Linked DNA regions of Homo sapiens. The protein of the gene in region 1 purifies or fractionates together with the protein of each later gene. This does not show direct contact. Each region holds a gene or a part of one and is shown on either strand. Other genes may lie near its edges. The genes, in order: GNB4 and MTNR1B.

Evidence for each region.
Region 2: the proteins of GNB4 (region 1) and MTNR1B purify together in Homo sapiens (tandem affinity purification; 2 studies listed by IntAct). This does not show direct contact.

What each region holds. Positions count from the first base shown.
Region 1 is NC_000003.12:179,413,364-179,420,938, forward strand, and holds part of GNB4 (guanine nucleotide-binding protein subunit beta-4), read right to left. Parts: intron 7,565-7,575; coding exon 7,526-7,564; intron 6,143-7,525; coding exon 6,036-6,142; intron 3,194-6,035; coding exon 3,130-3,193; intron 1,685-3,129; coding exon 1,522-1,684; intron 419-1,521; coding exon 352-418; intron 251-351; coding exon 49-250; intron 1-48. UniProt on the Homo sapiens protein: Guanine nucleotide-binding proteins (G proteins) are involved as a modulator or transducer in various transmembrane signaling systems.
Region 2 is NC_000011.10:92,964,338-92,972,650, reverse strand, and holds the start of MTNR1B (melatonin receptor type 1B), read right to left. Parts: upstream 3,001-8,313; 5' UTR 2,926-3,000; coding exon 2,703-2,925; intron 1-2,702.

The DNA.
Region 1 (7,575 bases):
ACACTTTAAATGCATAATAAATTTTCTCTAGAAATGCTATTCACTTACACTGACAGCATTGATATCTGAGACATGTCCCGTGAAAGACTGTCTACACATTCCATCTCGAATATCCCATAATTTGGAAGAGGCATCACAAGCACCAGAAACAAAAGTCCTCATGTCAGGACTCAAAGAAAGACTCATCACATCTCCAGAATGCCCAGTGAATGTGGTGGTCTGCTGGGCAGTTTCGATGTCCCATAAAGCACTGTAATTAAAAACAAAATTTCATGACAATTACTTCTTCTTATGTCAGTTCCTGCTACCACCCTCAAACCCATAATCAGTGTGCTTCTGGAATAAACTTACCAAGTTGTATCTCCTGAACTTGTAACAATTTGGCTGTCATCTAAAAAACGACAGCAGGACAAGTACCCTACAGCATAAAGAGTAGCAAATTTTAGGTTATCACTGATTGAATAACTCAGTTACCATGTGAAATAGCAATATATATTTTTAAAAATAGAATACTTGGGCAACAAGTGTTTGTCAATATAGTCTATAGTTCTACTTTTAGTTACTTCAAATCCTACATTGTCTATAAACCAAATTTTATCCACAAACCATTCTTAGGCATTAACTATGTTAATGACATTGTGCTGGGTACTCTGAAAGTTACCAAATTGAATAAGACACAGCCCCTGCCACCTAAGACAATTACCTTGGGAAGAACTATAATCTATGGCCGACTGTGTTAAGCACCCTGGAGAAATAGTTTTAAAATACTGTGAGAGGATGCCTCTGGGTGCACCGCCTATGAGTTAGCCCTTCTCTGCAAGGAGCAGTTAAAAAAATTTTTTTTTCAAATAAAAAATATTAAAAAAATAAAATATTGTAAGAAATCAGAAGAACAACAGTGAAGACTTTATGAAAGATGTGGCATTTGAATGCTTAGCATTCATCAGTGTTTCAAAATATGGAAATGTCAGAAAAACACCATTCTAGAGATTTTGTAAAAGCATGGTCAAATAGTATGGCTAAAAATTCAGATGGATAGATACCAGATAAGTGGCAATAAATTCCTGATTAACACCACTAACCCAATACTACACTATTGAACTATGATGGGCACACTGGCAAACAAAGCAATACACTATCATGGTGAAAAGCACTTCACTAATGTACCTTAATGCATACTTTCAATTATGTAATTGAGTACAGATGCCACAATCCCATAATTGTTATATGGCAGCAGAAAATGGAGAACATTTTATTTGCTTTATTTTTCATGAGTTTGAATTTTGTGCAGTAAATTTATCATTTTTTACAAAAACAATACAGCTATTTTTGAAAAATAAAATTATGATCAACGTTTGTATGACTATAAAAAGTTAATGTTTCCTTTGTTCATAATAATTTCATTCCCACCCGATTAATCCTCATCCTTTAGCCAGCCGAGCACAATCTGTCATTTGTCCTTGATCAGCACATTCCACACAAGGAATCGTGTGGTGGGAAAGAATATTTAGGGAAGCTCACCTGTGTGACCTGGCAACTCTCGGCTTACTCTCACATTTCCCTCTCTGGTCTTTAAGTTATATATAGAGCAGATGTTGTCCAAGCCTCCACAGGCAACATAATTACCAGAGGGAGCATAAGCACAGGTCATCACCCAGGAGGACCTCAAAGGAATAGCATGCATCTGTAGGGCACACACCACACATCACTCAGATTACAAAAACAGTCATCTATTGCATAAACCCATTTACAATGAAGTAAATATTATTAAAAATTAAACACATCTAAGAAAGATAAGTCAAATAAAATAATGTAATGGCTTGAGAAAGTGAACCATGAAAAATACAACACTAACGCACATTAAAATGCCTATTGTTTTGTATTATCAAATCATTTGAGTCAAAAAGTGCTCTTTTTGGAAATAATTCTCTTAATAAAATAATGAACATAAAGATGTTCCAAGGTTAATATACTGCCATTTGAAAAATTAAGTGTAAAATGTTAGAGGTTTTAATAGAATTTTCACTTTTGTAATAGTGCTCAGAAGAGAAATTTCCTCCAACATAACTCTGAACAAGAACTAGGGAAATAATTAGCAAGTATCAGAGTCGATTACATGAGTCTTCCATGAAAAGACAACACTGGCATCCCTCTATTAATAGGCCCTTATTCTGGGATCTCATTCAAACAATGGTGATAGTTTTTTATTGCTCTAGAAACAACACTGTCTGCTGCCTTGTTACCCTAACACCAATCATTTGAAGGTCAGATGGAAAAAAGGTGTATGAGAATACCACGGCTAAACAGTCCATACAGGGAATCAACACGTGGCAGGATTACTACTATGCTCTCACTTAACCTAAAATAATACGCTTAAAATACATTTTTTTTGTTTTATGAAAATATAGTTGAAAGATAATGTGCTTAATGATGATTAATAAAGAAAAACTATTATATTACAAAATTGTCTTAGCTAGCTTTAAAATCTCAATCAGGTTGAAATTATTATTTCACAAAATGGTATTTTCAAATGTTTAATAAAAATACTAATATGTATACACAGAGTATAAAGGTATTAGCTTATCAAAGTATTCCTGAAGCTTTTTCACCACTCAACTATTTTAAACTGGGGATTCCTTCCAGTGGATGTATTAGGACCATCCACAGTCTTTTACCACCAAGAGATCTACGTAAGTTGTCATTTACCTCCAATCTACTGTATCTTCTAAAAAGTCCAGAAGCACAAATCAGTGCCTGGAGCGGGCCAAAGAAGAGCTTCCCACTAGCCATCTAACTTATCCAAAACTAGAAATAAAAATCTCAAGGTCTTTGTCATATTAGGAAATGGGAATTTTTAAAAATCATTTATTAGTATATGTAAAATGGTACTCTTCTAATATTCATATATTAAATATGAGCCCTCTAGTAAAACATAGAGTCATCTTTGGAAATGAAAAAGGGTTAAACATTAAAAGTAAACACTAAGACAAAAGAGAAGAACTAGATTAAAATAAACAATAAATTTATCTCAGAAAGCAATTTAAGTTTGAGGTAAAAGAATAAAGGAAAGAACTGGTGAACAGCCAAACAAATATAAGGTTATTTAAAAGAATTATGAAGAAATTCTACCTTATTTGTTGTATAGCTATCCCAAATAATTAATTTTCCATCTTGAGAAGCACTGACTAGCAGCCTAGAGGAACAAACACAAAAATAATTTGACACTTAGAGGGAAAAAATAGCTTAAATTGGTTATGCATTGCATTAATGTAGAATAATTCAGAAAAATACAATTTTTCCAACTAAAAACTTGATACCAAAAAATGTTCTTCCAACTTTTAAAAAATTTATGCTGCATGCCAAAAATCTTGAACATATTTCATAAAATAAAATTTAGCAACTGACTAAAAATGTCTGGCTATGATTAAACATTTTTGTGGTAACAACATCTTAGTTATACAAGATTTGGGTGGATATTAGCTGACTGGTTTAGTACTTACTGACTTACTTAAATTTCATGACAAGAATGTACATAGAAGCCTAACAACCATATTTCATCCAATCTAAAAACACCAATTGAGAGCCTGAGAATATGACAATACTAGAGGTACAACGCAGGATACATCGCCTGCTCTTGAGGCCTCTACCATCTGGTGAAGATAAGACATTTACTCATATTTATATTAAATCAAGTAAGTAAAAACTGTCAGAAGAGGGGTATAAAATAAATGCCACAGGAGAGTAAAGGAGGAACAATGGCTAGATGAGTTAATCACAAGAGAATGAGTCTTGAAAGAAAATGTTGAGAGCTAAAGATACAGAAAAGGCTGTATTTTAGGAGAAAGCTATGTAAGATCAATGACAGGTAGAAAAATACACTGAGTGTTGTTTCAGGAATTGTGGGTCTTCCAGTAGTACAGTTTGTGAGAAAATGGAAAAATAAGTTGAGAAAAGCAGACTGGGCTTAAACTGCAGAAAGCTTTGTTAAACTAAAGAGTATGAACTCCTAAGTAATTTTAGCCACTAAATTTTTTGTTTTGTTTGGATTTTTTTTTTTTTTTTGAGACAGACACTCACTGTGACACCCAGGTTAGAGTGCAATGGCACGATCTCAGCCCACTGCAACCTCCGCCTCTCAGGTTCAAGTGATTCTCCTGCCTCAGCCTCCCGAATAGCTGGCATAACAGGTGTGCACCACCACGACTGGTAAGATGGGATCTCAACATGTTGGTCAGGCTGGTCTTGAACTCTTGACCTCAAGTGATCCACTCGCTTGGCCTCCCAAAGTTCTGGGATTACAGGCATGAGCCACCATGCCCAGCCTTGTTTGGAATTTTTACTTTTCACCATGGTGTAAAATTCAAAAAATAAAAAAGGATATACAGAAGAAAATTTAAAAAGCACCTTCCTGGGCCTATCATCAGCCACCCAGTTCCTTTCCCTAGAGGTAAATAACATTATCAGATTCTTGGGTAGCAATCACTACAAGGTTTTACAAAAGGGAAGATCTATCTGATAGTGGGGTATAGGATGGCATCTAAAGAAAATTCTTTAGAAATCAATTGGCATCATCAGCATAAGAGTTGAGGAGAACATTAAGTAATGGATTGATAACACGGATGGGTGGGAAGACTATGTGAGATAGGTTCCTGGATGATGGTTTCATTTTTCTATGAAGATTAACAGTCTTCAGAAAACGTTTAAGGAAAGCAAGAACCATAAACATTGTTTCAAGTTACTATATTTTAAGTTAAAATTTTGCTTTATCAACAGGTAAATTATTTTTATCTTCAACTCCTTTAAGAAAAAGAATAAGACATTCGGCCAGGCGCGGTGGCTCACACCTGATTAATCCCAGCACTTTGGGAGGCTGAGGCGGTTGGATCACCTGAGGTCAGGAGTTCAAGACCAGGCTGGCTAACATGGTGAAACCCCCTCTCTACTAAAAATACAAAAATTAGTCAGGCGTGGTTGTGGATGTCTGTAATCCCAGCTACTTGGGAGGCTGAAGCAGGAAAATCCCTTGAACCTGGGAGGCAGAGGTTGCAGTGAGCCGATACCACACCATTGTACTCCAGCCTGGGCAACAAGAGTGAAACTCTGTCTCAAAAAAAAAAAAAAAAAAGAAAAAAGAAAAGAAAAAGAAAAAGATTAAGACATTATGTCAGTTGCCAATTATATAATTTTATGTATCCCTTCGTAAGAGGCACATGTTCTATATTATTGTGGTCAAGTATCCCAATTAGAGCAACAATTGAGGCTTCTTCTACTTTATAATTTTAGTGTCTCCTGGGAGAAGAGAATAAATGTGCAACTTCTATTAAAACATAGAAGTTTCTTGGTTTAGGCATTTCCCATTAAGATTAACCAAATCAAAGGAACAAGTAAACCACTGTGATAGCAGACACATCTGCTATTGCCAGACAATGGAAAAACATAGGCTGTGCTGTAGCCTTATACACATAGTGAATGACAGTGATGAGCAATCTATCTAACTGTAGGCCACGTAGCAGCTGTGCGTGTGCCTGTGCACCTGCAGATGGTCAGCTTGCACATTCAAGCACACACCTTTCTGTGATGCAGTCGAGGGAGTAAAAGATGTATTCAGTACAAACACCTTTGTTTCATGTAATTTCCATTATTTGCGAATTTATGTAATAACAAACTATAGCAATATCCAAAAACTTGCACATAGGTGTTCAATACGTATTTGCTTATGAACTGAAATTTCAAGCTTCATATACAGTAAAAACGCTTTGTGCCTATTTAAAAAACAAAGAATGTCTGCAATGTTCCACTGCAAAGAAAAGGAATCCTCTTCTGAACAGTTGTCCTGGATTCCATATTAAAAATGTTTATACTTTTAAAGAGTCAATTAATATTCTTATTGAAAGCAGCATGTTCATCTGAGATGCATTTTCTGCAAACGCTTCATGAATATATTCTGTTTTTAAACAAAGAAAATGCAAATGATGGTTCTTAATGAAAATAATTCTGCAACAGTTTAAAAATGACAGGTAATGACAGGTACAAACCTGGAATCGTATCCCCAATGCATAGCATAGATTTTAGCTAGGTGGCCCCTCAGTGTACGTCTTGTTCGCATTTGTATTCGACCCACAGAGTCCATATTTGATGTAATCTTTTGAAAGCAACAAAAATGTTATTCTTTACCTTAATCATAGTTCATGAGATAACTTGAACTAGAAACAGTGAGGAGTTAAAAAAGCAAACATAAAGTACATTTATAGTAACTGAAGGTAATTTAATGTATATAATTCCACAGAGCCGTTATGGGATCAATATGTTCCTGAAAATTATGATTAGTTTAAAATAATCCTATGTGCTGTTATAAATAATATACATAAATGTATAATAAGAATGCCTTCTGCAGACTATTAACTAAAAAGAATAGATATACCTCTATGCTTTAGTAAAAAACCAGCCACAAATAAAAATCTAGAGGCAAATGATCACAGTAAACATTTACAATTTTAACTGTAAGAAAGCCAATTTTATATTTGTAGAGCACATAAAATACTTCCTTAATAATAATGATCAATATTAATTAAACATGAAGCCTTCCCAAGATTTTTTAAAAATATTAGTCTTCTTGACCCCTCTTACTATCTCATTCCCAACCTAAGAGTTTTCATAAGGAAAAAAACACTTAATCAGGGTATACCAAAAAGAATCAGAAACTATTTAAAAAGAAGCATAAACTATATGAATCTATACATACATATATATATACATACATAAATATATATAATTTTTTTTTTTTCGAGACAGAGTCTCACTTTGTCTCCTGGGCTGGAATGCAGTAGGGATCTCGGCTCATTGCAATATCTGCCTCCCAGGTTCAAGCGATTATCCTGCCTCAGCCTACCAAGTAGCTGGGATTACAGGCAGGCACCACCATGACCAGCTAACTTTCATGTTTTTTTTTTTTTTCTAGTAGAGACAGGGTTTCACCATGTTGGCCAGGCTGGCCTCAAACTCTTGACCTCAAGTGATCCTCCCACCTCGGCCTCCCAAAGTACTGGGATTACAGACATGAGCCACCATGCTTGGCCTTGAAAATATATATACATATATATATATATATTTTTTTTTGAGACGGCGTCTCACTCTTCTCGCCCAGGCTGGAGTACAATGGTGCGATCTCAGCTCACTGCAACCTCTGCCTCCTGGGTTCAAGTAATTCTCCTGCCTCAACCTCCCGACTAGCTGGGATTATGCCCAGCTAATTTTTTTTATTTTTAGTAGAGATGAGGTTTTACCATGTTGGTATAGCTGGTATATTTTTATAGCATTTATTTTTCCATAGATGTCTATTTTAACAATATATTTTAAAAAGCACTCGCACTGTATAGCATTTGACAAATTACGAAGTGCTTTTACACAGAGATTTCATTTAACTTTTTTCAATTAAGCACTAATACAAGAATCTGAATGTCATTTGCCTCTATGTCAAATTATTTTATGAGTTACCAAAATGAAATAAAGAAAAACAAAACTTTACCTGAACAAGCGTTGCATCATTACATGCTTTCCGAGCATCCTGAAGTAAAA
Region 2 (8,313 bases), on another chromosome or scaffold:
TGCCATGGGCTGTGCAAGACTCTGAGAATGTAGCAAAGAGTGAACACACTTGGCCTTACCTTTTAAGTTGGGTCGGTGCCCTGACCCTACCTCCCACCTTGCCTCCACTCCTCCCTGTCTGCCTTTCTCTGGTGCTATCTCTGAAGTCAACCCACCACATGCAGCAACAGACACTACAGATAGGATATCCCTGAAAAAAAAAAGACAATTAATCTAACCACTCACCCTGCCATCAGGAGCGGCACTGTTAGGAATGATACAGATCTGCTCCATAGAGGAACTGGGTTTGTGATAGGCAAGTAAAGGATACTGGTGTCTCCTGGGAAACATGCTGTGACCTCAATATGGGCTATGTATCTTGGTTATTGGAAATATATGTATTCTCATTGTTACAGACTTAATTTTTTAATACCAATGATTTAAGGAGCCAGACTTAAGTACAGAAAGGTCTGAAGAAGCGTTTCTTAAATTAAATCCAAACTCTTCAGTAAGACAAGGCCTGATTAAGAGTAGAATGTGTGCTAACTATTCAAAGAGCTGTAGGTTTTAAGCGCCTTTTGAAATCTCACTCTGCTGAGATCATTTAGTTCAAGTCAGTACTACAATTGTTTGTGACTGTCACCAATAAAGCCAGAGGTCACATAAGAACTGGTTAAATTGCAAGACTGCAGCAGTGGCAGGAATTGATGTCATTTAGATATAGTGTTATTATTATTTTTTTTTGTTCGGGTGCTGGGCTGTAGCGGACACATCAGGAGGTAGGAAAGATAGAACAGAGGATATGCCAGCAATTTAACATGCTCATGACCCTCCCCAGTGATGCTCTTAAACTGGTTAGGTTTCTGCAGACCCTGCCAGGATCACAGAAAAGGCCAGCCCTCTGTAGGATGCAGGAGGGGAGGGGTGCTTTTCTCCTTCCAGCAAAAGGAAGCAACTCCTACTTCCCTCAACCACCTTTCTCATGGTGGGCAATCCAAATTACTGAGCAGGGAGCCATGGCCTGACAGACCTGCTCTAAATACTCAATAAGTCAGGGACAGAAGGGGCCAATGTCAGAACCAGGAGGACCCATTTCTCCCCCATAGAGCCAGGAGTTGTCTCCCTTTTGCTTCCCTGTGCTGGAAATGAATGTTTATGATGGCTGCAAGGGACAATGTGTCAAAAATATTAAATGCAGTTTTCTAATCATAACCTGTTTTTCCCTAATATATAAGCTTTTCTTCAAAGGACACAATATTTTGAACAATGTATTCCAGAAAACAGCCACCACTACTGAAGTGAGTTAGAAAGTTTACTTCTTCTTAATAATGTTATGTTTCCCATATGATGGCTGGATACTCACAGTTGGAGGAGTTTCTTGTTTGTTTTTTTAGCTAAAAATCCTAGAGTTGGCCGGGCGCAGTGGCTCATGCCTGTAATTCCAGCACTTTGGGAGGCCGAGGCGGGTGGATCACTTGAGGTCAGGAGTTCGAGACCAGCCTGGCCAACATGGTGAAATACTGTGTCTACCAAAAATATAAAAAATTACCTGGGTGTAGTGGCGAGCGCCTGTAATCCCAGCTACTCGGGAGGCTGAGGCAAGAGAATCCCTTGAACCTGGGAGGCAGAGGTTGCAGTGAGCCTAGACCATGCCACTGCACTCCAGCCTGGGTGACAGAGTGAGAGACTCCATCTCAAAAAAAAAAAATTTCTAGAGTCACAGGCCACACCAAATACATATTACTATTTGCTAAAAATGGTCTGACTCCTTAGAAAAGCATTTTTAAGCTATATGGTTGTTTTACTGCTGCTATCTTTCCATTTTAATTCACTCTAATATTTGAATTTGCTCCCAAGGCCCAACTTGAAGAAACTGCAAAATTAACAAACAGGTGACTGAGCTCCTTCCTAAGCTGAAGTGGTCATCATGCCCCATGACCTGTGAGGGCTAGAGTTCAGATACTGCCCCCCACTCTGGTTTTGTTTCTTTGAAGACCTGACTAGGGGAATATTGAAATGAGAGTGGATTGAAATAGGAAAAATATTTTCAGGATTACAACACGATTTAGCCAAATCATTGCTTTAATTTTCACAGTTAATCCCAGGAATTCCCAGTCTTCGGAAAAGACCACAATATTTCAAAGCAATTTAGTTCAGTCCAAGCAGAATCTGCAATTTCTGCATTTACTCTCCGTCAACTGGAATTGGGTCTTCAGATGACCTGGAGATAAGTTTTTGACACAAAACCTACTGAAATGCTTCCATTGATTAACTCATTTTTTCAGCAAGGATTTTCTAAGCGACTACTACATAAAGCTACAGTGCTTGGCAAGGAAGGAAGTGGGATGTCAAGTACAGGTGGTGAGATTTCTGTGGCCTGATGTGGGCACCTCTGGAAAGACACGCATTGGAGCGCGACGGGGTAGCGATGGCATCCAGCAGCGTGGGTTCCCACAGCGCCGGCGCCCGGCCAAAAAGCGCGCCAGTAAAACTTTCCGCAATTCCCTCTGTGCCAAGCGCGTCCTGGGCAGCCGCACTTCGGAGGGGCAAAACTCACCCTAACTTTTGAGTGCAGAGTCAAACTTAAGGAATAGGTTAGAGTGAAGGGAAAGGGGAGCCCGGGCTGAGGAGGGAAAAGGCAGCGCATATCCCGGGGTCAGGGACAAGATCAGAAGACAAGGAAGGGCCCGATGCCAGCACCCAGCATCAGGAATGGTGCTCACCTGCGTTCCGGAGCTTGCGGTTCCTGAGCACGGAGAGGATCACCAGGAGGTTGCCCACGACGTCCACGGCGGTGGTGACGATGAGCACCGCGGACAGCGCTGGAGCCACCCAGGGAGGTCGAGGGGTCCTGGAGGGCCGCGCGCTGCCAGCCCCCGACCAGCCCGGGCGCACTGCCCACCCGCCCGCCTCGCAGCAGTTGGCGAAGGAGCCGTTCTCTGACATCGCAGACTCTCCCGCGCTGTGCTTTGGCCACCGCGCGGCCCCGGACAGCCGCAGGGCGCGCGCAGTACTGAGCCGGGCGCTCTCTTCCCTGCCCAGCTCGCGTGTGCAAGGGAGGAGGCCAGTGGGGAGGGGTCTGGAGGAGATAACTAATTAAGCGTGGGCAGGGGATGGAGAAAAATATAGGAATGGGAGGAGGACTTGGGGTGCAGCCGTTGTAGAAGGGAGTGCGTCCCTCAGCGGTGCGCTCAGGAACAGCTGGGACCGCACAGCTGTCTCTGCCACCCCGAGCCCAGCAGGTGCCTGGCCCACCTCAGGCTGCGGAGCGCGTCTAGCTTCTGTCCCTGAGTATATAGCCACACCCGAGACCCCGATTTCCTCCACAGCGTCCCCAAGAGAAGCTGTGTCTAGGTAGGGACGTCCAACCCAGGTTGATAGACTGGAGAAGGTGCTGATGGTAGGGACCTCCCATCAGTTGTCAAGAAAGGCAAGGTTTGACGTCCCATAGGGCTGTGCAGCCCGAAAGAGAATGCAACTCCTAAGATGTGGGGACAGAGCCCAGAACAAAGTAGGGTAGACTGTTATATTCTAGGGAGCTGCAGAAAAATACGAACCTAGCCATTTTCCAAGCACTCGCTGGGTATTGTGGGGGGCATTGATGATGTCTCTACTGGGTCCTCTTTATAAAGCCAATACTTTAACATATTTACCAACATATATTTACACATAATACTTAAATAGATGTATGGCCAATATTGGGGGTTATGATGTGGTTTTTGGAGGGGTTAGGACAAGAAGAAGATTGAGGCATGATTACAATAAAGAAGGAACTCAGGTGCCCTTTATTAAAAATGTTTGAGTCGTGATCTGGTGATAATAATAATAGATAACTTCTAATGGGGGCTAATCTTATGACCCCAAAGCACTTTTCACACCCATTAGAATCACTAAAATCAAAATGACTGATTATCCTATATTTGTGGAGGAAGTTAAGCAACCAGAACCCTCATACACTGCTTTTATGAGAATGCAAAATGGTATAGCCACTTTGAAGAGCTGTCTGTTAGCTCCTAATAAAGTTAAATATACACCTATTCTATGACCAGAAGTTCCAAATGAAAAGGAAAGTATATTTCCACCAAAAGACCTGTACAAGAATGTCCAGAGCAGCCTTGTTTATAGGAGCTCAAATCTGGTAACACCTGCAATTTCCACCAACAGAAGAATGGATAAGCAAATTATGGTATGACCTTGCAATGGAATACTACTCAGCAATAAAGATGATTGACCTACACAACAGCATGGATTAATCACAAATATGTTGTATTGAACAAAAGAAGCCAGATACCAAAAAATATATACCATATTATTCCAGTTATAGGAAGTCCAAAATCAGGGAAAATTAATCTATTTTCTAATAGAAATCAGAAAAGTGGTTACATTTGAGGGTGGGTATTGAGAAACAAACACCAAAAAATTTCTGGATTGTTATTTTTACATATGTTATTTTACGTAAGTTATATTGCCCCTCTCCTTTAAAGGGGGGAAAAAAAGAAGGAAGGATGCAGTGGAGACGGAGGGGCTGATGATGCAGAGGCATGAGTGGATGTTGAAGGGAAGGGAGAGGGAAGGGAGAGGTGAAGTGAGCTCATCCTTGAAGTGAGCTAATCCAGAACTCCTTAAAGTGAGCTCATCCAAAACCCAAGGAAGAAATATTATTTGTTAGGAGAGGGAGGCTTTCTTTCTTGTAGTAGAAAGGAATCAGAAGCCAGATGCAAATTCAGATGCACTTCTAAACTGGTGTGAGGAAAGAAGAGAACTCTTGTCTGGCTTCTGTATTCTCAGGGAGATAGAGGCTACCCATTAGCCAGGATTCAGGGGAACAGTGTAGGAGATTTGAAGACAAAAAAAAGATATGAAGGAGCACTTCAGAAAGTGGAAACATTAACTAGTAAAGTATAACAGGCGTGTCAGGAGCATGAATGTCCCCCTGCAGCTTGAGATGATGGCTTCAAATGATGCCACTCAGCCTGGCCAGTGGTTGTTAATCAGCAACTTGGAGCTACTCAGGACAGGCATGGAGAAGGCAGAGTGAATTTCAGTCAGGATTGGGGTCTGCTGGGTAGGAGCAAATAACAGAAGAAAGTTCAGGGGCCTGGTGAGAAGATGGATCCTGGGGTTTACATTAATGAGGGGTGATGAGAAAACAGAGGGGCTGATGGGCTGTGAGACAAAGGAAAAGTCAAGAGATTGCAGGCCCTGTGACTTCAAGGAATTGTGGTGAGTGAATCAGAAAATGTAAGTTGTGGTGCTGAAAGGGTGAGTTGTTTGAAACTGAGATGTCTGAGGCATGTAGATTCTGTTGCTGTGAAGGCTCTGAGGGTGATTATGGGTAGTGGGTTGCTGGTGGAAGGTGAGAAAAATGTTGTTAGAGATGAGAAGGTAAAGGAACTGAGAAGTCGGGGGTGGATATTATGGTGGGGTAAGAAAAGGAAAACTATGAGTCAGGAGGCGAATCCCCAGTGAATGAGGAGGAATGACCAACATGTCCTCAGGAGAGCAACAGCAAAGGGGAAAGAGACACCAATGGGCAGTGTCAAAGCCAAGAGGCTTTTTCAGGAAGAAGAGACAGCCACGCCTTCCCTGTCTTACAGGTGCAAACACATCGTGGCACTTCTCAACTTTCACACGCCAACATAGCAATAGGTGAGTTGGACACAGTATAAGTTACCTCCATCCAGACACACCCTCTAATAACACACATTTGTTAAACTGAGCATGAAACATAGGAATTTGCCCTATGCTGCCTTGGAATGTGATTGTCCATAATAGCATATCTCAAGATAGGCACAAAGAATTGGGATGTTCACCTATCTAAGAAGTCAATGCTACATCCTGGCATGGCTGGCCAGGCTGTGCCTTAAAATGGTGGGGGAATGATACAGCCACTTTGGAAGGCAGTTTGGTGATGCACTGCAAAACAACACATACCCTTACCATCGCATCGAGCAATTGTATTCCTTAGTACTTACCCAAGTGAGTTGAAAATATATGTCCACAGAAAGACCTGCACACCGATGTTTACAGCAATTTTACTTATAATTCCCAAACTTGGAAGCAACCAAGATGTCTTTCAATAGGTGAATAAATAAACAAACTGTGTGGCACATCCAGACAATGGAATATTATTCTGTGTTAAAAAGAAATGAGCCATGATGCCATGAACACTCATGGAGGAACTGTAAATGCATATTACTAAGTGAAATAAGCCAGTCTGAAAGGGCTACATACTGTTTCTTGATTCCAATTATATGACATTCTGGAAAAGGCAAAATTATGGATACAGTAAAAAGATTAGTGGTTGCCAAGAGTTTGGGGTGAGGGAAAGATGAATAGGTTGAGCACGGAGGATTTTTAAGGCAGAGGAACTGTTTCATATGATACTATAATGGGTAATACATGTCATTATACATTTGTCAAAACCCAAAGAATGTACAACACCAAGAGTGAACTGTAATGTAAACTATAGCATCGCAGATACTGCTGTGCCTGAATATAAACTAAAAAGATTATTTGTACAAAAGGCAAAAATAATAGTTGCTGCCAACAGTATAATGAAATTTTATGGGAAGAAAATCAAACTCTGGAGAAGGAGAGGGAAAAAAGACAAGAGAGTTTCAAGATTACTAGATGTTTTCTCAAAGAAATAAATCAACATTTTGAATGCTTACCGAGTGTCCTAGGATTTAAAAATTGAGCAGAACTGGTTTTCTCAACACGTATCCCAAGTTCAAACTCAAATGAATATCTGACCGTAGAAGCTCATTGTCATGTATCCCAACAGTAACACCTTTTACTCCAGATAGTACTTGAAACCTTTCCCAAACATCTTTCAACCAGGGTATCTTGGGAGATAGCAGTGATTGGCCCAGCTAGAAAAGAAGGAAACAGACTGTCAGAGAAGTGAATTGCCAAGGTTGGTGGCTGATGAGTGACCAGTGGCATTATGCAATCTATTTATTTTATTAAGTGTGTAATGAGGTCCAGGTACAGTGGCTCACACCTGTAATCCCAACACTTTGGGAGGCTGAGGCCAGAGGATCACTTGAGGCCAGGAGTTGAGGCTAGGCAACAAAGTGAAACCTTGTCTGTACAAAAAATAAAATAATTAGCAGGCACGATGGCATGCACCTGTGGTCCTAGCTACCCAGAAGGCTGAGGCAGGAGGGTTGCTTGAGCCTGGGAGGTCTAGGCTGAACGAGCTGTGATCATGCCAGGGCACTCTAGTCTGGGCAACTCAGTGAAACCCTGTCACTAAATAAATAAATAAATAAATAAATAAATAAATAAATAAAGTGTGACAGCTTTTACTCCTTCAGTATGAAATATACAAAGAAAATAAGCAAAATTTTCTTTTGGTAATCAGCTTGTAGCATGGCTGACAAGCACTTTTAATAATGCTATAAAGAGTAACTAGCACACAGCTAATATCTAGTAATTGCTCTGCATTACACATAGGGGACATCTGCATTCTTTTGTTTAATCCTCTCATCTCTATGTAACATATTACTGTGTACTGTGAAGAAACTGAGATTTACACAGGTTAAGAAACCTACCCAAGGTTGCTGAGCTAGTGGTTTCAGAGCTAGGATTGCAACCTAGGCTGCCCGATCCTAGAACCTGGGGCCATTTTACTCTTGCAGTGGGATATATTAAAATATACAGACCCTTGTTACCTCACAAGAAAGATAGGGAAACTCAACAATGTTGAGTAGATTGAACCCTGAGAGAAAATAGAGTAAGACTCCAGATGTTCTTGCTGTCAGCTTTGAAAAAAAAATGGTTTATACAGATCACTAAAAAAATATACCACTGCCTAGCATCGTGAAGCTGCCCTAATCTTTCCCTCAGGTGAAGAATGGCCTGGAAAGAAGGATGCTCTACAATAAAAGAGTTTAAACAAGACACAACTACAAAGCCACCACCTTCTGGGCAGCCTCCCTCATATTTCCCAGCACATGCCTGTGGCAGAAACCAGTCGGACGATCCTGTAGTTGAGCCAGGCTGGGCGGGGTCAGAGCAGGCATGTTCTCTCTGCTGCTGGTTGCATGATCTTTACCTTTCCTGACTTTTTCGTTCCCTTCAGAGGAATCAGAATGGGAGTTGCTGTGCCGGTTATTTCAGATTTGAATCTAATCTAACAGCTCAATGTTCAAGCGGAAGGGTCTGACCCTTCCCTCGGGATACAGAGACCCTAAGTAAGCTCGGTCAGTGTTTCTCTATTATCACCCACTGCCCAGAATCGATTGTTTAGCAAATAAATACATACATATTTAAATATATAAATATATCTACATATGAATTATGTATAATTCAATGTTTGCCAGTTTA